2 linked regions of the Homo sapiens genome follow. The protein of the gene in region 2 purifies or fractionates together with the protein of the main gene of each other region. This does not show direct contact. Each region holds a gene or a part of one and is shown on either strand. Other genes may lie near its edges.

What was found.
Region 1: the proteins of GPX8 (region 2) and GAPDHS purify together in Homo sapiens (affinity purification with mass spectrometry; 3 studies listed by BioGRID and IntAct, with this or other methods). This does not show direct contact.

What each region holds. Positions count from the first base shown.
Region 1 is NC_000019.10:35,528,895-35,536,457, reverse strand, and holds the start of GAPDHS (glyceraldehyde-3-phosphate dehydrogenase, testis-specific), read right to left. Parts: upstream 3,003-7,563; 5' UTR 2,931-3,002; coding exon 2,864-2,930; intron 1-2,863. UniProt on the Homo sapiens protein: May play an important role in regulating the switch between different pathways for energy production during spermiogenesis and in the spermatozoon. Required for sperm motility and male fertility.
Region 2 is NC_000005.10:55,163,171-55,167,797, reverse strand, and holds the end of GPX8 (probable glutathione peroxidase 8), read right to left. Parts: intron 3,744-4,627; coding exon 3,580-3,743; 3' UTR 501-3,579; downstream 1-500.

The DNA.
Region 1 (7,563 bases), on a different chromosome or scaffold from region 2:
ATTATAAGCACCCGCCAAGGTGCCTGGCTAATTTTTGTATTTTTAGTAGATACAGGGTTTCACTTGGCCAGGCTGGTCTCGAACTCCTGACCTTAGGTGATCCACCCGCCTCAGCCTCCCAAAGTGCTGGGATTACAGGTGTGAGCCACTGCGCCTGGCCGGGGTATGTACTTTCAACATAGATCGCTTGGGGTGACATTCTCTGTGCCTCAGTTTCCTCCTCTGTAAGGGGAGATAATAGTACTTTTCTTAGAGGGTTGTTGTGAGGATTAAATGAGGTAATACATGGATTGCTTATGACCAAGCCGAGGAAATGTTTGACATGCATTAGTATTTTGTAGATTGTTCCCCGAATTTGTCCAATAATTGATTTAGCCCAGTGGTCCCCAAACTGTTCCATGATAGGAGTCGTCGGAGTGGCCAGGCGTGGTGGCTCACACCTGTAATCCTGGCACTTTGGGAGGCCAAGGTGGGTGGATCACTTGAGGTCAGGAGTTCAAGACCAGCTTGGCCAACATGGAGAAACCTGTTCTCTACTAAAAATACTGTAATCCCAGCTCCTCGGGGGGCTGAGGCAAGAGAATCTCTTGAACCTGGGAGGCGGAGGGTGCAGTGAGCCGAGATTGCGCCACTGCACTCCAGCCTGGGCGACAGAGTGAGACTCTGTCTCAAAAAAAAAAAAAAATCACCTGAGGAGGGCTCTTCCTAGAAAAATCGGACTCAGTGGGTCTGTATGGAGGCCCAGAAATCCTGTTTTTAATCAGCACTCCAGGCCGGGAGCGGTGGCTCACGCCTGTAATCCCAGCACTTTGGGAGGCCGAGGCAGGCAGATCACCTGAGGTTGGGAGTTTGAGACCAGTCTGACCAACATGCAGAAACCCCGTCTCTACTAAAAATACAAAAAAATTAGCCAGGCGTGGTGGCACATGCTTGTAATCCCAGCTACTCAGGAGGCTGAAGCAGGAGAATCGCTTGAACCCAGGAGGCGGAGGTTGTGGTGGGCGAGATCGTGCCACTGCACTCCAGCCTGGGCAACAAGAGCGAAACTCCATCTCCCAAAAAAAAATAAAAAATAAAATAAGCACTCCAGGCATTTCTTATCCTCAGGGAAGCTTAGAGAGTACCGTGTATCATACTCTGTGAAACCCATGGAAGCTCACATTGGCTCCCACCTCTCCACACACACTCCTGCTCCCAGACTGCACTTAAAAACACCTGCGCCTGGAGGTAGCAGCCGCCTGAGCTACAGAGGAGGGCTTGAGAAGAGGGGAGAAGTGGAGACTCAGGGGACCTGGTGGCAGAGAGTTTCAAGCTGGAAAGTCAAGCCTGGCTCAGTCCACACAGACCTGCTGCTCTGTGGATTTGAGCAAGTTAATGAACCTCTTGGGGCTGATCCCCCACCTAGGGGCTGCTGTGAGGGCGCAGTGAGATCTCGAGGCCCACACATAGGAGCTGATTTTAATAGAGGAGGGAAGTCTGATCCTACACAGATTCCTGAGGAAAGGGAGACAGCAGGGGGTGGAGAAGGGCTGGAAGGGGGTAGTGGGAGTCCAAGTTTTTGGCACCAAATCAAAGGCACCTGGGGGGTGGTGGGGCTGGGAGCCGGGGGCCAGCTGGCCTGTCTGTCTCCCTGACCTCTCCCTGTTGCCACAGACCTTGTGGCCTGAGGCTGGACTATAGGTGTTTCCAGTGGCTGTCCAAGTTCATGAAGGTGTTAGTGTTTATTGGTGAACTTGAGGATGTTTGCATCCTTGGGGGTTGTTTCTGCTATGGGAGAAAGGGGATTTGTCCACCTGGTTCAGGTGGGAATCTGAGCCCAATGGGTGACCCTTCCGAAGAAAACTCAGATGGTCCTCCTCTCCCAGCACTCCCAGCCTTGCACTCTCTTCCCCTCCACTGTAGGGGTGGGGTCCCCCGGTTGGAGAAAAGCCTGGGGGCTAGCTGGGTGCTGCCCCCAGCTCCTCACTGCGTCCTCCCACTGAATCCCGAGAGGCATGCGCTATAAACCCACTTTACAGAGGGGAAAATGAAGCCTGAGGCCACGGAGCAGTGATGCGCAGGGCAGGGGTTCAAGTCTCATGAGGCTGGTAAGCCTGTCTGCTCCTGTGTCTTCCAGGGTCTCCTGGACCAAAGCCCCAGCCCCACCTACCCCTGCGGCCCCCGCCCTTGGGAAGTGAGGGAACAGTGTGGGAATGGAGGCAGCCCACCGGAAGACCTGGTTCCTCCGGCTAGAGTGAGTGAGTGAGTGTGTGTGTGTGTGTGTGCGCGCGCGCGGGCGCGCCGCCCTTGTTGAGAGACTAAGGAAGTAGTTTGCCCTCTCTTAACCTCTGTTGGCCGCTCTGTAAACTGCGGGCACACTCTGGCCTTCTCAGGTGGTGGTGAGGCTTCCCTGAGCTCTCGCCTGCGAAGTGGTCAGCACGTCCCCGGCAAGGTTCCAAGTGTCCTTGTTTTGTGCATCACAGGGAGGGCAAAGCTCACCTCACGCGAAGCGCCATGAACATCACTTTTACATGGAAGCCCAGCACCCCTGGGTTCTCCCTAAGCCCCTCCTAAGCCCGCCCACTTCCCGCCACTTTCAGGCTGCAGCCTCCGATGGCCCTCGTTTCTGCTCTTTCTACCGCGTGATAGCGGCGCGAAGCCCACCCAGCCCTGGGGGCGGAGGCCCGGTCTCCCCGCCATGGCAGTAAACCCCACTCTGCCAGCACACTGGCGGGTGTGGAGGGAGGGAGAGCGGCTGATCCCCTGGTCCCTAGATGGTGCACACGCCAGGAAGGGCGGTAGGGATACGGCACAGGTGTGAGGGTGCAGACGCTCCCCACTACCCTTTCCACCCCTCCCCCGCGCCCTCCGCTGCCTCCCTCACCCGGGCACGGCTGTCGCAGCAACTGGACAACGGTGACATTGGTGAGGACGATGTCGCGCTTCGACATGGCCTCTTATAAGGTTATCATTGGCCTGGACCTGCTGTGATGTTACCGAGGTGCGTGCGGAGCGCCAGGGCTGTGGGTCCTGGGCTAATTGCCCTGATGTCACAGCACCCAGTGACGTCACAGTACCCAGTGACGTCGCCGAGGGGCGGCGCCCAAGCCAGAGGCCTGACACCATCGCATCCCATCCCCGTAGAGGCATGGGACGTCAGCACGCTATGCATCACCGTTCCACGGCCACGCACTGCCGTCTGGAATGGAATCCCACTTTTTAAAATTATCATTTGTTTATTTATTTTGAGACGGGGTGTCACTCTTTCTCCTAGGCTGGAGTGCAGTGGTGCAATCATGGCTCACTGCAGCCTTGAACTCCTGGGCTCAAGCGATCCTCCCGCCTCGGCCTCCTGAGTAGCTGGGACTACATGTGCAGCCACCACTGCAGGCTATTTTTACTTTTTATTTTTTTGTAGAGAGAGGGTCTCACTCTTTTGCTCAGGCTGGTCTAGAACCCTTGGGCTCAAGCGATCCTCCCACCTCGGCCTTCCAAAATGCTGGGATTACAGGAGCGAGCCACCACACCCAGCCTGGAATCCCACCTTTTACACTGTTCCTGAAAGCCCTTTCCTCTTCTCTGTCTCTTGAAGCACACAGGTTCCATGCTGTCCCTTGGATTCTCCAGTGGAGTGACTCTTGCTGCCTCCGTATGCCTGGAAGGCCCACCCAGGGCTTCCCTTGGCTGCCTCTTGGTTTCCCACCCTTTAAGAGAGGCTTTCTACACTCTGCATCTAAGTTCCCTCCTTTCTCTGTCACTGTCAGCCGTCACCCCCTTCCCAATTTCTGCCCATCTTCCAGGAAGCCTTGTCTGACTTCTCCATTCTGAGTTATGCTTCAGTGTGCAAAATTTCTCTAGGGCTACACTGTCTATGTTTTTATTTTCCTTAGAGCACATGTCTCTCTAAAAATTGTTTGTTTTCTTGCCAACTGTCTCTGTCCACCAGACTGTAAGCTCTGAGAGGACAGGGACGTCATCTATGTCACTTCTGTATCCCATTGACAAGAAAAGTGTTTGGCACCTGAAAGGTGTTTGTGGGCTGGACGCAGTGGCTCATGCCTGTAATCCCAACACTTTGGGAGGCTGAGGTGGGAGGATCATTTGAGTCCAGGAGTTTGAGACCAACATGGGCAATGTGGCAAAACCCTGTATCTACAAAAAATAAAAAAAGTAGCCAGGTGTGGTGGTGCATGCCTGTTGTCCCAATTATTAGGGAGGCTGAGGTGGGAGGATCACTTGAGCCTAGGAGGTCAAGGCTGCAGTGAGCTGTGATTGTGTCACTGCACTCCAGCTGGGAGACAGAGCAAGACCCTGTCTGAAAAAGGCGTTAGCCCAATAAACTATACCTGAATGAATAAATGTCAATTCCTCAGGTTTCATCTGATCGCTAATCTTTTCTTTTCTTTTCTTTTTTTTGAGACAGAGTTTCGCTCTTGTTGCCTAGGCTGGAGTGCAATGGTGCGATCTCAGCTCACCGCAACCTCCGCCTCCTGGGTTCAAGTGATTCTCCCGCCTCAGCCTCCTGAGTAGCTGGGACTACAGGCGTGCGCCACTACACCTAGCTAATTTTTTTTTTGTTTTTGTATTTTTAGTAGAGACGGGGTTTCACCATGTTGGCCAGGCTGATCTCAAACTCCTGACCTCAGGTGATCCATCTGCCTCGGCCTCCCAAAGTGGTGGGATTACAGGCGTGAACCACCTCGCCCGGCCCTGATCGCCAATCTTATCAAACTCTTCACGTTATATCTTCTCGCAGCACCCATTCTTTTCCTTGTAGCTTTTCATGTAGTTTGTCATGATCTACTGATTGGTTTATTTGTTCGATGTCTCCCCCTTGGGCTCTAAGCCCCTCACAGGGCTCCTGTTCTTGTTTGTTTGTTCACGACTGTGCCTCCAGCACTTAGAACAATACAAAGCAGGTTTTCAATGAACGTCTGACAAAGAACAAGTGGACAAACAGCTCCCTCCCCTGCAGCCCCGGGGTAGGGGTTTGCTTGCACCTCAGTGACTCACAGGCAGGCACCATCACCTGCACAGCAGGTTGACACGCAGCTGTGACCAAGGTTCAGGGGGAGTGGGGGTTTGTGCCAGGAAGGAGTCACCATCCCAGAGAGGGATGGATGCAAGAAGGGGCAGAATGACATAACCTCTTCCTTCCGCCAACATCCATGAGAAATTCATTTGCCAAGCACCTGCCATGGGACCAGGGCAGGGTGAGGCTCTCCTGCTTTGATGGCCTGGGAGAAGAAAGTAAACTAAGTGTACAGGTGAGGAGGTTTTAACGAACCGAGACCAAAACACAGATGATTAATTAAACAAAGGGAGCTACATTTTGGTGTACAATCAAGGAGGTGAAAAATATAACCTCAACAAAACCAGGATTCAAAAGGGGCTGATTTTGGCTGGGTGCAGTGGCTCACACATGTAATCCCAGCACTTTGGGAGGCCGAGGCAGGTAGACCACCTGAGGTCAGGAGTTTGAGACCAGCCTGGCCAACATGGTGAAACTCCATCTCTACTAAAAATACAAAAATTAGCCAGGTGTAGTGGCATGCATCTGTAATCCTAGCTACTCGGGAGGCTGAGGCAGGCGAATCACTTGAACCTGGGAGGCGGAGGTTGCAGTGAGCCGAGATTGCCACTGCACTCCAACCTGGGCAACAGAGTGATACTTCATAAAAAAAATAAATAAAATAAAGAAAGGACAACTCCAGGCCATTCTCAGTTATGGAGCCAGATGCTGAAGTCCTGAATCGAATCGTGCCACATGGGAATAGAGAGACAGAGGAGAGGGACTGAGGCTGGCAGAAGATGAAAGGATGGGGTGGAGAGGGATAGAGAAGATGGAACACAGTTCAGGCCAGGCACAGTGGCTCACGCCTGTAATCCCTGCCCTTGGGGAGGCCGAGGTGGGCGGATCACCTGAGGTCAGGGGTTCGAGACCAGCCTGGCCAACATGGTGAAACCCCGTCTCTACTGAAAGTACAAAAATTAGCTGGGCATCATGGCAGGTGCCCGGCTAATCCCAGCTACTCGGGAGGCTGAGGCAGAAGAATCACTTGAACCCGGGAGGCGGAGGTTGCAGTGAGCCGAGATCATGCCACTGCATGCCAGCCTGGGGGATAGAGTGAGACTCTCCCTCCAAAAACACAAAAAGAAGATGGAACACAGTTCAAAGTGGGAGAAATCCCACCTCTTGATCTCTGGGTGGGTTAGGATTCTGACACTCATCACCCACTCTTCTCTGCCCAGCCACCTCCTGGTATGGGAAACTCCATCATTTCGGCCCTGGACCAGGGCAGAAAAACCACACCTGAGTTTGCCCAGGAATTTGGCTTTGTCCCTGGAGTGTGAAACCGGGAAACAGATTTGATGAGCTCAAGCTTGGAGAGGTGGCACACTTAGTCACCCTCTATAGGCAGAGCCCAGAGAAGGCAGAAGCTTCTGGATATCTGTCCTGGGATGCCTGTCTTTGGGTGGAGTCAAGTGTCCAGGAGCTGGAGAGGAACCCCGGGTCCTCTGAGGGGAGTGGGCCTTGGCGCCTTTGTTTGAGCAAAGCCTGAAAACACGTGCAGATTCTCGCCACACCTGGGCACCCACACACATAGCTCTGCCACCTCCAGCTGCTCACACCCTGCACATTGTTCCTGCCTGGCCTTCCCACCAGCAATCCCACCTCCACCCCTCTCTCAGTCTCTCCCCTTGGCACCAAAACCCAAATATCTTTCACCCCTGCACCTACTGTACCCACCCACTGGCTCTCGTTCTGGTCTTAGCCTCCCTCCCAACTGGCTTCTAGATGCATCTGCTGCCCCAAGCCTGCCCACCACCACCTGCCCTTCCTTCCGATGCCCTTTTCATGCCTGAGGCCAGACTCTCAGCTGTTTCCCCTCCAACCCGAGCCAATATGTCAACACTTGGGGCTTCAGGTTGGGGCTTAGGAGGCCCCATGTCGGGAGGGCAGGAAGGATGAGGGCCTGGCCCCAGCCCAGGTTCTGGCTCACAGGCTCCTGCTGCCCTGGGTCTTCGGCCCCTCCCCGTGGCTGCCTCAACCGGCTTTTCAGGAGACACTGCGTCCTGTTCCAGCTCGTGGCAATCAGCCCCCTGCCCTTGCCCAAGGGCTGGGAGGCAGGAGGTCTGGGTTCTGCGACAGGAATGGGATCCTGCCTCCAAAATCTGCGGCACTCCACAAGGGACTCTATGCTGCCCTGGCGACCCAGGCGCCCTTCCCTCCAGCACCCTGTGAGACCCAGACTCGGGCTCGGAGTCTCTTTCCTTGGCCTGTTCGAATCCATCCATTTGTCCAGTCAATAAATATTTACTGAACCCCAGGCAGTGTTCAAGAAGCTAGGAATACAGCAGTGATCAACACGACCAATTTACATTGCTAGTAGGTGAGACAGGCAATAAAAAATAAAGGTAATTTCAGATTTTTTTTTTCTGTGAAAACAAAAGGGTGATACTACAGAGTATAATTAATGCCATGTTATGGTCAGGAGAGGTTTTCTTGCGAAGTTGGCATTTAAGTCAAGTACGGATGAGGAGGAGCCAGCCACGTGAAGATCTGGGTTCTGCATTCCAGGC
Region 2 (4,627 bases):
TGACCTCTTTGGGCTCAAGCAATCCTTCCACCTCAGCCTCCTATGTAGCTGGGACCTGAGGCATGTGCCACTACACCCAGCTAATTTTTTGATTTTTTTTGTGGAGACAGGGTTTTGCCATGTTGCCCCAGGCTGGTCTCTAACTCCTGGGCTCAAGTGATCCTCCCACCTCAGCTGCTTAAAGTGCTGATATTACAGGCCTGAGCCATCATGCCCATCACCAATTATCACATTTTTAGAAATTTTGCATCCTAGTTACTAAACCAGTGGTAGATTGAAATTGACCATGAGGGAGCATGAGCATTTACATTGAGCTGGCAAATGCTGTATGTCAGGATTCCTCCTCCAGAGTCTGCTATTAAACATGTACCAGCCACCATTATATATATGCTAGATACACTGCAGTTATTAAGAATTATATATATGTACACGTATATATACTATTGATACAGTGTAATTGTTAAACATTTAAAAAAATGAAATACAACTTTCAGGGCACATTTCAGCCAAATTCATATTTATTCCAGTCTCTAACACTCTGTTGTTATGTCTGCTGTAAGATGATCAGGAGTTAGTATGAAGTATTCTTCTCTACGCACCAAAGAAAACAAACAAAGCAAACTTCAAGTCAGTGAATTAGTTACCACAGTTAAAATGCATTTGATTTTGTCCTTTTCCTTTTTCACAAGAACGACAGCTGAATACTCTTTCATGTGATGCCTGATATTTTTCTTTTTCTTTTTCTCTCTTTTTTGAGACAGGGTCTTTAAGATGGGGTCTCGCTCTGTTGCCCAGGTTGGAGTGCAGTGGTGCAATCTTGGCTCATTGCAACCTCAGCCTCCTGTTTTCAAGTGATTCTTCTGACTCAGCCTCCCAGGTAGCTGGGATTACAGGCATGTGCCACCGTGCCCGGCTAATTTTTGTATTTTTAGTAGAGATGGGGGTTTCACCATGTTGGCCAGGATGGTCTCGAACTCCTGACCTGAAGTGATCCACCCGCCTCGGCCTCCCAAAGTGCTGGGATTACCGGTGTGAGCCACTGTGCCAGGCTCTGATGTTGATATTTTTCTGTTACAGTCCTTAGCCCAGGCATCCTGTAGCACTCTGTGTCCCAGACTTTTTGATGCAGAAACAAGACTGAAGGAAGATTGTCCAATATAGGAAAGATTCAACTTTTCCTCTATGTGTTTGTCCGCTGGTATTCCTATGAGGCATTTGAGTTACAGGTAGCAGCACATCAGCAAATGACTCCGCTCCCTCTCTCAGCACACATAGCCTAATTGTTACAGAACCCCGAAGGGACACCTGAATGTCCTTTCTTTCAAGGCAATATGTATGACACGCTTTCAAATCTCCTCCTGCCTACTCTGCTTACCTAAAGGGCAAGGGGAGAAAATCCAGCACTGACATAGAGTCTGTAGGTTGAATAAGGCAGCCAAGATTAGAGAGATGTAAGTGAAGAAACCCACTTTATCTGGCTTTGGAGAGAGCTAGTGACTTAAGGCAGGATGTTCATCTGTATCATGTTGACTGGGACAGTCCTGGTTGTTCCCAGTGCAGCTCCATTATCATCCATCTGGCAGTGGGGAGTCTCTGCTGCCCATGTGGTGCTGGCATATGCAGTTCTGCTCATGCTCCTAACGTGAATGCATAAAACACCCCTGCAGTGCCACAGCACTGCTATGAGTTCATGGAAGGCGTAGGTGAGGATACAAGGCAAGAGTGCTCTGGCACCAACACTTGGAGGGGCCACCTGAGCATAAGTTTTCTTAGAGGCTCAGAATTCAAATTGCTAATAGGCTCTTGGAGCAAAATTGCAAAGGACAGATAGGCTTGTTGGTGGCTTCTGTTTTCTTCGCTAACAATCCAGGTTAGTTCTGATTTCCTTCCTGGTCACTTAAAACACCTTAGTAAGTGTGTTAATTGACTTTTAGAGTTGCAAAGGGCTTTTTATTCCATTCAACCCCTGTTCAATTTACAGGTGAGGAAACTGAAATAAGGTACTTAAGTGACTTGCCTAAAGTCACGCAGCTGGCGAGAGGTAGGAGCAGGCTTTCTGACACACTCATCTGGCATTCTTGAGGCTATCCCTACAAATCCTCTTGACCTCTGGTAGAAATTCCACCTCCACCAAATATCTTTCTAAATACATTCATAGCTGGGTGGCTGGATATGGACTCTGAAGCAGAAGATGCTTCATGAAATATTTTTGGTTTATCTAATAACTTTGGTCCAAATACGTATACAGAACTATATACTGAGGTAGCATTACTGAATTTGCCATACGAAACATCTTCACTTTCATCCATCAGGTCAGAATTTGGGAGTCAAGTCACAGACTACTTAAATTGGGTCTTTTTCTTCTTAGACAAATTTATACGACTTTTTTACATTTTTGGCCATCTTCCTATTTAATTCTTTTATGCGATGAATGTATATTTCATGAGGCAATAATTAACCTTCACCAACTTGGCAGGTTGCTTTGTTAGTCAATTATAAGGCTAACAAAATATAAAGGTCATGACTTTGGGAGAAGAAATGCCTTGTGACTCTAAGAGGTTCAGTGACTGCTGATCTACACTTTAGGACTTGTATGATCACCCCCTTTTTATACTAGAATTTAGGCTGTTTGGAGTTGACTTTTACTATTTCAGCTATCAGAATGATGCAGCATTGAATTCCTCCCAAGTGGCTAATCTAGTACGAATACATTAGCAACCCAAATCAGCCTATAAGGAATCAAGTTAAATGATCTTATACTCATGTCCTTTTTTCTACACTTGGGATTTTCACGCAAAAATAAAGACTGACTTACTTGGTAATATTATGATTACAGAATTTGAGTTGCTTCTAAAAAATAATGCAGAGAGAAATACTGAAAATGATGAAGACTTTTTCAAATGTTATAATACGGTCATTTATAAATGACTATTTATATATGTCAGTTACATACATAGTGACAGTTATAGTAAAACACTAGGAACCTGTACTTAAAAAGAAAAAACAAAATCCTGTACACAAAACAAGCATACATATATAAGGATTTGAATCTATGTATATATATTTTACATTTTTCAACATTTGTGTTTTATTCCATTAACATAACCATTTACAGTTATTCCAGAAATTTCAGTCATACACAGTGCTCTTGAATCCAAAGAGTGGTCTAGTGTGTTGGCATTTTCATCAAGTACAGTCCTAGAAAATGTCAAGTTGAACAATAAGATATTGAGGCACATTGGTCACTGTGTATTCTGAATTCTTTAGTATGGTCAGAGGAAGTAGTTAATATATTTCATGTTGATTCTTTGGCTACTCTTGATTTTTGCTTTGGGTAACATCCTCATCCTGGGAACATTCATTACCACTTAATAGCAAGATAACATTAAAAAAAAATCCTTCATTGCCACATTTAATAGCATGTTTAAAAAGGCAGAGGTTGCAATGAGCTGAGAACGCACTACTGCACTCCAGCCTGGGTGACAGAGTGAGACACTGTCTCCAAAAAAAAAATGTTTAAAATGAGACCAAACCCTCATGGAGACATTTCTCTGTTCTATTAGAAACGCAATGGCATTCTCATAGATCCTCTTTCTTTTTTATGATCACTTGTCTAACCAGAGCTGCTATGTCAGGCCTGATGACTTCAATGGGCTCCTCTGGCTTCCAGAACTTCACAACTTGACCCTCAGGGTTGACAAGATACTTCCAAAAATTCCACCTTGGTTCCTTCTTTGAAGAATCTAAAATATCCAGAACATATTTTCATGAGCATAATTTTATTCTTTGTCAAGATTTTCACTTCTATTAGTATCTGCATAAATGATAACTTTAGTATCAAGTTCTAGGACTGTCATAATATAAAAAACAAAACACCCAAACGAAGTGAAACTCAAGGTTAGAGTAACCAGATTTCAATATACTTGATGACTTCACCTATGAGTCTACTCATCTAGTATGTGATCTTAGTATCAAGAAATGAAGCAAAGTAGGCTGGGAGCCGTGGCTCAGTCTGTAATCCCAGCACTTTGGGAGGCTGAGGCGGGTGGATCACCTAAGATCAGGAGTTTAAGACCAGCCTGCCCAACACGGTGAAACCCCATCTCTACTAAAAATACAAAAAATTAGCCGGGTGTGGTGGTGTGCACCTGTAATCCCAGCTACTCGGGAGGCTGAGACAGTAGAATCATTTGAACCTGGGAGGTGGAGGTTGCAGTGAGCTGAGACCACACCACTGCCCTCCAGCCTGGGGGACAAGAGTGAAACTCTGTGTCAAATAAAATTAAAAGCCAAAAAAAATGAAGCAAAGTTGTAATCCCAAATTGCTGGGATTACAGGTGTGTGCCACCACACCAGGCAAATTTTTGTATTTTGAGTAGAGATAGGGTTTTGGCCTCCCAAAGTGAATAATCACCTTATTTTGAAAAGCAATAACTTTTTTTTTGGCAGGGTCTCGCTGTGTTGCCCGGGATGGGCTTGAACTCCTGGGCACTAAAGTGATCCTCCTGTCTTGGCCTCCCAAAGTGCTGGGATTACATGCATGAGCTACCATGCCCAGCCATGATATCCTTTTGATAAATCTTAATTTATGTAAGAAATGTAGATTTTTTTTCTATTTATACCACTC